2 linked regions of the Homo sapiens genome follow. The protein of the gene in region 2 interacts with the protein of the main gene of each other region in a pairwise test. Each region holds a gene or a part of one and is shown on either strand. Other genes may lie near its edges.

Evidence for each region.
Region 1: the proteins of LHX6 (region 2) and A2M interact in binary tests that used the Homo sapiens proteins (3 or more experiments, as listed by UniProt).

Annotation. Positions count from the first base shown.
Region 1 is NC_000012.12:9,070,808-9,074,627, forward strand, and holds part of A2M (alpha-2-macroglobulin isoform a precursor), read right to left. Parts: coding exon 3,753-3,820; intron 2,065-3,752; coding exon 1,846-2,064; intron 1,680-1,845; coding exon 1,552-1,679; intron 1-1,551. UniProt on the Homo sapiens protein: Is able to inhibit all four classes of proteinases by a unique 'trapping' mechanism. This protein has a peptide stretch, called the 'bait region' which contains specific cleavage sites for different proteinases.
Region 2 is NC_000009.12:122,204,875-122,208,694, forward strand, and holds part of LHX6 (LIM/homeobox protein Lhx6), read right to left. Parts: intron 1-3,820. UniProt on the Homo sapiens protein: Probable transcription factor required for the expression of a subset of genes involved in interneurons migration and development.

The sequences.
Region 1 (3,820 bases), on a different chromosome or scaffold from region 2:
GGGGGCTGAGGATCTGCATTTTTTTTTTTTGATGGAGTTTTTCACTCTTCTTGCCCAGGCTGGAGTGCAATGGCATGATTTCGGCTCACCGCAACCTCCGCCTCCTGGGTTCAAGTGATTCTCCTGCCTCAGCCTCCCGAGTAGCTGGGATTACAGGCATGCACCACCACGTCCGACTAATTTTGTATTTTTAGTACAGACGGGGTTTCTCCATGTTGGTCAGGCTGGTCTTGAACTCCCGACCTAAGGTAATCTGCCCGCCTTGGCCTCCCAAAGTGCTGAGATTACAGGCGTGAGCCACCACGCCCGGCTGAGGATCTGCATTTTAAGAAAGCTCTACAAGTGATGCACAGGCTGTTTGTGACCTCTAATCTATGCCAGTTATTTTATTTATTTGTTTACTTTTATTTTCTTTCAGCTGACAAAATGATGTATATTATGAATAATAAATTTCAGTCTACATTATTTACAAAAACAACAATAATTTATAATGTTTACTTAAACACTGGCTTTCAACAAAACACTTAGAAACACCTAGCGTCTTGTCCCCGAGAGTTTGCATCCGAAATTTGGACTGCTTAATTTATTTTTTGGCATATATATACACCAAATTAAATGAAAAAAATATATATATATATACTTAACTTTTAGGTTCAGGCGTACACATGCAGGTTTGTTATATAGGTAAACTCGTGTCATGGGGGTTTGGTGTACAGATTACTTTATCACTTGGGTACTAAATTTTGCACTGAATTGTTGTTTTTTTCTGATCTTCTCCCTCCTCCCATCCTTAACCCTCAAGTAGGCTCTGGTGTCTGTTGTTCTCCTTTTTGTGTCCATATGTTCTCATCATTTAGCTCCCACTTACAAATGAGAACATGCAGTGTTTGGTTTTCCATTCCTGTGCTAGTTTGCCAAGGATAATGACCTCCATCTCCATCCATGTTCCTGCAAAGGTCATGATCTCATTCTTTTTGATGTGTGCCAGTTATTTGTTACATGTATTTTGTCCTAACTTTTTTCCTGAATAGTATCTCCAACCAAGTAATAATATGTTTGTGGAGAGAGAGTTTTTTATCAGATCTGCAGCTATTTAAATATTGATGCATATAAGTGTATCTTCCCCCCAAATTAATTATATCATATATAACCTGAGATTTATTATTGCCAGTAGGAATTCTAACTAAGGAGTCACTACTTCCTTCTATTCAAACTTTTCAATAATTCTTCATCTCTATCTTCAATAAAGCAAGAATAATATAGGATTTCATTACATAACAAGGAATTCAGGTCAGAGGCAATGGGTAATATTTACTTAGTTGTTATTGAGGGAAATTATTACCCTTTAAACAATGAGGTTGCACAATAGTAGATCCTGGATGGACAATGTAAACCCCATCATTGAGAAATTATATCAACTTAAGAGAATACATTGCATTTTTTGTGAATAGTGCAAATATCTACTGTTGCACTGCTTTACTTAAAGAGGAGTTCCCGAAAGAAGACTGGTGGTTATTCTTAGGATTAGGTGATAGAGTCAGAAGGTCTTACCTGACACTTAGGGAGATTTGGAAGCTGGTGTGGGCTTTGGGTTCATCACAAGTTTGAGGCAGAGTCTGCACTCCTAAAGCAAAGGGGAACTCTTCCTTTTCTGGGAGAATATTGTATTTCAAGGATGTCTATAGAACATCAAAGACAAAATCAGTTTTTTGCCCTTTCCCAGAATTCCTGTCCACGTCCCTAACCCTTTCTCTGATCTGTCCCATTGTTTTCTGAGTTAGGACTTCTCAGAGAGAACAGCTGCTGTCCTCATCTGTCCTGTCCTCACCTGCCCAAGAGTCTCACCTGGAGGTAGACACATCCTTCTCCTGTCACTTTCATGCTGTATTCCCCAGGCAGCTCTGGCAATGAGACCTGCTGCAGTAACAGGCGGTTGTTGTTGTCCACTTGGAATTTGCTGGAAAATGTCCCTGAAGACTGGATAGTCACCTGTGCAGCCTTCCCAGTCCTGGTAAATGTGGCTGCTCCATATTTGGACAGAGCATGGAGAGCCACCACTGTGTCCTGTTAGAGACAGATGAGTGAGAGAACCCATTGGGCATTATAAGGCTTTGAGGGCTGAGATATTTTTCAAAGACCCATGTGAGGGACTTTGATTTCCTACTTCCCTCACTACTTAAATATAGGAGCTGTAATTTCAAGATTGATTATAATCTTTAGATAGTTGAAGAACCATAACATTCACATATCTACCTTGGACTGTATGCCCTACATGTTTATTTTATTTATCAGAAAATTGATCCTTTTCTCTCTGTAAGTATATGTGGGACATGGAATGTGGAAAACATGTGAATGGCAATCAGTTATTGGCATCAGCTATTTGCTAACATGTCTTTCTTGACAACTATGCTCATATCTGCCACCACTCAAGCAAAGTTCAGTCTGGCTCTCTCCCATATTAAACTTTGCTCAGTTGCTGAGGTCAGTGTCCTGGAGAGAACCCAAGGTTCTTTGCAGCCATGAGCAGAGTCATGCTTCAGTTTCTCCAAAAGAAATAAAAGATGAGTATTATAATTATCTTCTGGATTTAATGACATTTTTATTTGGCTTTCCCTTTTTATTGGATGATTTCCTGTTCCCAGTGAATGTCTGCTGGTATGTATCCTCAACAACATTAAACCTGCTTGGCCTCCTTCAAATAATATGTTTCTAATAAATGAATGATAACCTTTAACAAAATTACTTAGTTTTTTTCATTCATATGATAAAAGATTAATACAATGGAAATAGGATGGAATGCCATTTTGTCACATTTTTTCCGTTTTAGGGTATATAAGCAAACATCCGAATTCTCTGAAGATAAAACTTTCTGCTGTGTACATATCAATGAATTGTTCAGATACATGGTTATATAGCTAGATTTAGGAGGTTGGATGAATAAAGACAGTTCTTTATGCTCCTGATGAATAAATGTTTGTGTATTAAGAGGTGAATAGGGGGCTGGACGCAGTGGCTCACACCTATAATCCTAGCACTTTGTGAGGCCAAGGCGGATGGATTGCCTGAGCTCAGGACTTCGAGATCAGCCTGGGCAACATGGCAAAACCTCGTCTCTACTAAAAATACAAAAATTAGCCAGGCATGATTGCACATGACTGTAATCCTAGATACTTGGGAGGCTGAGGCACTAGAATCGCTTGAACCTGGGAGATGGAGGTTGCAGTGAGCCGAGATTGCACCACTGCATTCCAGCCTAGGTGACAGAGCAAGACTCTGTCTTAAAAAAAAAAAAAAAAAAAAGGTGAATAGGGGAAGCACAAAATGTGTAGTTTTGAGAAAAGCCTATTAAAGGGGACCTAAGAATGGAGAGATTTGCGAGGAGAGGTTGTTGGATTTTGAGTAGAGTTCCTTTGAACAGTTTGAAAGAGACCCTAGAGCTTTCAGGAGAATGGCAGGAGACATCTCCTTCATTCTGCTGGTGCTCCACTGCTGCTTGAGGAAGGCAGTGTTGTTATGGGAAATAGGAGATGGATAATAACACAGCGATGGGGTGCCGGGATTCTGAGCATTTCCTTTTGGCCCTCTTTGACTTTGATTTGCTTTTATTTCCATTATCCTTGGATACTGAAAACTTTTCCTCATTTCAAGTTACTGTCATCTGTATTTTTTTCTTCTTGGATGTGTTTGTTTCTTTTTCATTCAAATCTTTTGCTACCTGAAGGTGAAATAAAAGGTTTTGGCAAATCACCAACCTGGGTGGAGGAGAAACCGCCCTGGGCATTCTGCTGCTTCGTGATCCACTTCACGATGTTGGTTGCAG
Region 2 (3,820 bases):
ACTCAGGGCCCAGATCTGAGTTTAAATCCTGGCTCTGTCAACTGACTTGCTGTGGGACCTTGGGCAACTCACTGCACCTCTCTGAGCCTGTTTCCTCATCTTTAAAACAAGGATGACAAAATCTCTCTCTGAGAATCAGAGAGATTCAATGAGATACAACAGCAGCAGCAAAAGCCTTCTGGGCATTTCACCCTGCACCTTCTGTGCCTGATTTCACGGAAGCCGCACCATAGCCCCGTGAGGGAGTTCCAACGTTCTGTTTTACAAGGAGGGCACTCAGGCTCAAAGAGGTGGAAGCGAGTGAGCTCGTGGGCACACAGCGAGGAGGAGGACCTGGCACTGGAGGCCAGGCCTGGCTCACAGCAAGCTCTCCCTACCAAAGCACATTGCCTCTACCTTTCCAAGGTCACCGTGACCATAGTGGCTGACTGCTTATTACCCACAGGGCCACGGGCTAAGCACTTCACATGCGCTTAATCTTCACATGCACGAAGCCTAGAAGTGCGTGGCTCAGACACACTGGGTGCCCGATACACAGTGGGAGATCAGGACTGTCTGTCCCTTTCCCCCTCCCACTCCCACCTCTAGCACTTGGTTGACATCTCACTGCTGCTGACACAGCCAGTTCCCTGAAGTTCAGGTCAAGGATCACTGGCTGGCTGGTCAATGGCAATGTGTCATTTCACAGTAAAGTGTGAGGGGCATCTGGTGGGCATGACTACATGGCTGTTCCCTTTTCTGATCAGGAATGTTACTTGCCCAGAACTGGTTATCACAAGGAGGTGATGGAGGAAAGCAATGATGATGATCACCATAATAGTGATCATGATCATAACCAACACCTGGGGGCATTTTCTGTGCACCAGGCTCTGTGCTGGGCTCCTTACACACATTATGCATTTATTCTCTGCAGCAACCCTACGGAGTGGGAACTATTATTATCCCCAGTTTGCAGATGTAGAAACCGCAGCTCAGAGAAACTAATTGCATTCCCAGATCTCACAGGGGAGGTGGCAGAGCTGGGATTCCGAGCTGGCCTAACTCCAGAGTGGCCAGGGTGGGCATTCCTTCCCCACCCTGGCCACTGCTCCACTTTGGCCTCCAGAATGCCTGGCTTTTAGCCCTTATTAGGAAAAGCTCTCTCAAGAGTGGCGACCCTGGTAGGACCCTTCCCCTCCATGGGTCTCAGTCTCCTCCACTGATCAATGACAGCTTAGCCCTGATTTCTAAGAACTTTCCAAGTGTTGGATTTGTGGGATCAGGGGACACAACCAGGAAGAAATGTGGCTCTGGAACCTCACAGGTGTGTGTGGCCAAATGACGATGCGGTGGAGGCAGGGGATGCTCCCCTGAGTGCTCAGAGCACTGTTCTCCTGGCCAGGCCAGTGCTGGTCTAGATGAGTGGGTTCAGGGGCCAGCCCCATGGGGACACTGAGTCTCCTCACAGCTAGGCAGGCTCAGGCCTGGAAGGACTTGGAAGAAAGCCCAGACAATCCTGTGCTGGCCACACACATACCACACCCTGCCGCCCACCAAGCCCCAGGAATTTGAGAGTTATGGACAAGAAAAGTCCCTAGGAGCTGGCGGAAAGGCCTGACAGTGAGAGGACAGAAGGTCATGAAGGAGGGAGAGACACTTTAATGCAGACTTTCTGGGTGCAAAGTTGGGGACACAGCCCAGCAAGGGAAAACTCTGGCTCAGCAGCCAAATCCAGAAGCCAGAAACTGTCTATAGCCAAATCTGACAGCCCCCAGCATGGCTCATCCCCCAGGCTGAATGAGACAGAACCACAAGCTTAGCTGAGCAACCAGGAGGCAAAGGCTCCTCTCCAAGCACTGAGCCCAGCCCTCTGTACCTCCAGGGCCCATCCCTGCCCTCCACATAATGTCCAAGACCCTCTTTCCATGATCCTTTGTTCTGTGGCCCCTGTCGGCTCTCCCCACTTCCCTGGACCTCAGCCACACTGAACGTCCCCCAGGGTCCCCTCCGGCCCAAGCTCCTCCATGCCTCTGGGCCTTTGCACATGCGGTTCTCTTGATGTGGAACACCCTTCTTCTTGTCCCCTGTCTCTCCCCTAGAGCTCACTGCCTCCTCTTCTGGGTCCTCTAAGGTCAAGTTTCTCGCCTACTCCAGCTGCCCATTCCCCTGCAATGTAACTGCCCACACCCTGTGCTAAGCCACAAGCTCCCTGAGGGCAGGGATCATGTCAGCTCACTTCTGCAGTCCCAGAGCCAGGTCTAATAGGATGAATCCCCTCCCACAGGAAGGGACAGCTCTGAGGCAGGTGGCTCTAGGATCCCGGCCAGTTCTGCCCATGCTCACATTGTGATTCTGGATGAGCACTGCTCTGTCTGAGCCTCCGTTTCTGCAAGTGTGAAATGGAGGTCATCGCAATCACCCTCCCAGGGAGACTATGAAGGATGAGGTCGGAGAGAGGGCTGTGTACACAATGAAGTGCTGCACAAAAGGAAGTGATTACTGAGCCGCGCAGACTTCAGAGTCCGACAGACTCGCTGCATCCCTGGACAAGTCATGTCACCTCTCGGAATCTGTTTATCTCTTTACAATGAGAAGGCCATCTCTATGTCCACAAAGTGGCTGGGAGGTGTGAACCAGATGCCATGTGAGAAGTAGCTGCCTTGAACAGAAGGAGCTCAGCAAACGGCAGCTCTTCCTATGGATGTGACAGTCTCAGCGGCGATGGTGTTCCTGGGGCATGCTCACTCACTACAGATTCTGCAGGATTTTACGTTAGGCACTACCATTTATTTACAAATGTATCTGTCCAGGGCTGTCTGTACCTCCACACCATACACATTCTCCTGTGGTGCCCGGCACAGAGAGCTCAGTACATACTAGGTGTACTGAGCTCAATCAGGAGGCTGAGCCAGAGGTACCATCCTAAAGGAGCTGTCCCCACCCCGGCTGCCCGTTAGAATCACACAGGCTGAGTATTACACTCGCAGATCCCTATATCCCACCCCAACAGACTCTCTGAGAGCGAGGCTTAGGAATCTCTGTATATTTACAAGCTGCCCAGGTGATTCCGAGCACACCAAGACCGGGATCTGCTGAACTGGAGGGCTCCTGACTCCAGCCCTAATGCTCTGACCCTCTCCCTCCGAGGGACTGCCACACCCACTGACCTCCAGGGATCCCTGCTTCCTACTGGGTGTCCTCCAACCCAGCAGTCTCTGAAGACTGCTACAGTGATGTTTCTGCAGCAGGCCCTCCAGGACCCCACACTGCCGCAGCATAAAATACAGACTCTTCCACCTGGCAGCCTCAAGGCTCTCGCTTTCCTCCTCTCATCCTCCCAGACATGCCTGCCAACAATGCTGAATGGCTCAGGGTTCCCTGAGAGCTCTGGTGTCTCATGCCTTCCCTGATGCCTCAGCTTTCAGGCCTGGCCTTAGAGGTTGCCTCTTCTGGGAAGTCTTCCCTGCCTCTCTCCTTTGCCCCCTTCCCCCTCCCCAGCTCCCATGGCTTCCCCTGTCACACTGTATTGTAACTGTTGGGATCTGCCTCCCCCTCCAGACTCTGGCCTCCTCAAGGGTAGGGACCACACTTTACTTGTTTCCACTCCTAGCAACAGATTCATGGATGCTGGGCACAGACAAGACATAGGAAATGTCTCCAAATAAACAAGTCAGTGAATTAAAAAATGTAAGGTTCGGCCGGGCACGGTGGCTCACGCCTGTAATCCCAGCACTTTGGGAGGCTGAGGCGGGTGGATCACCTGAGGTCAGCAGTTCAAGACCAGCCTGGCCTACGTGGCGAAACCCCATCTCTACTAAAAATACAAAAAAATTAGCTGGGC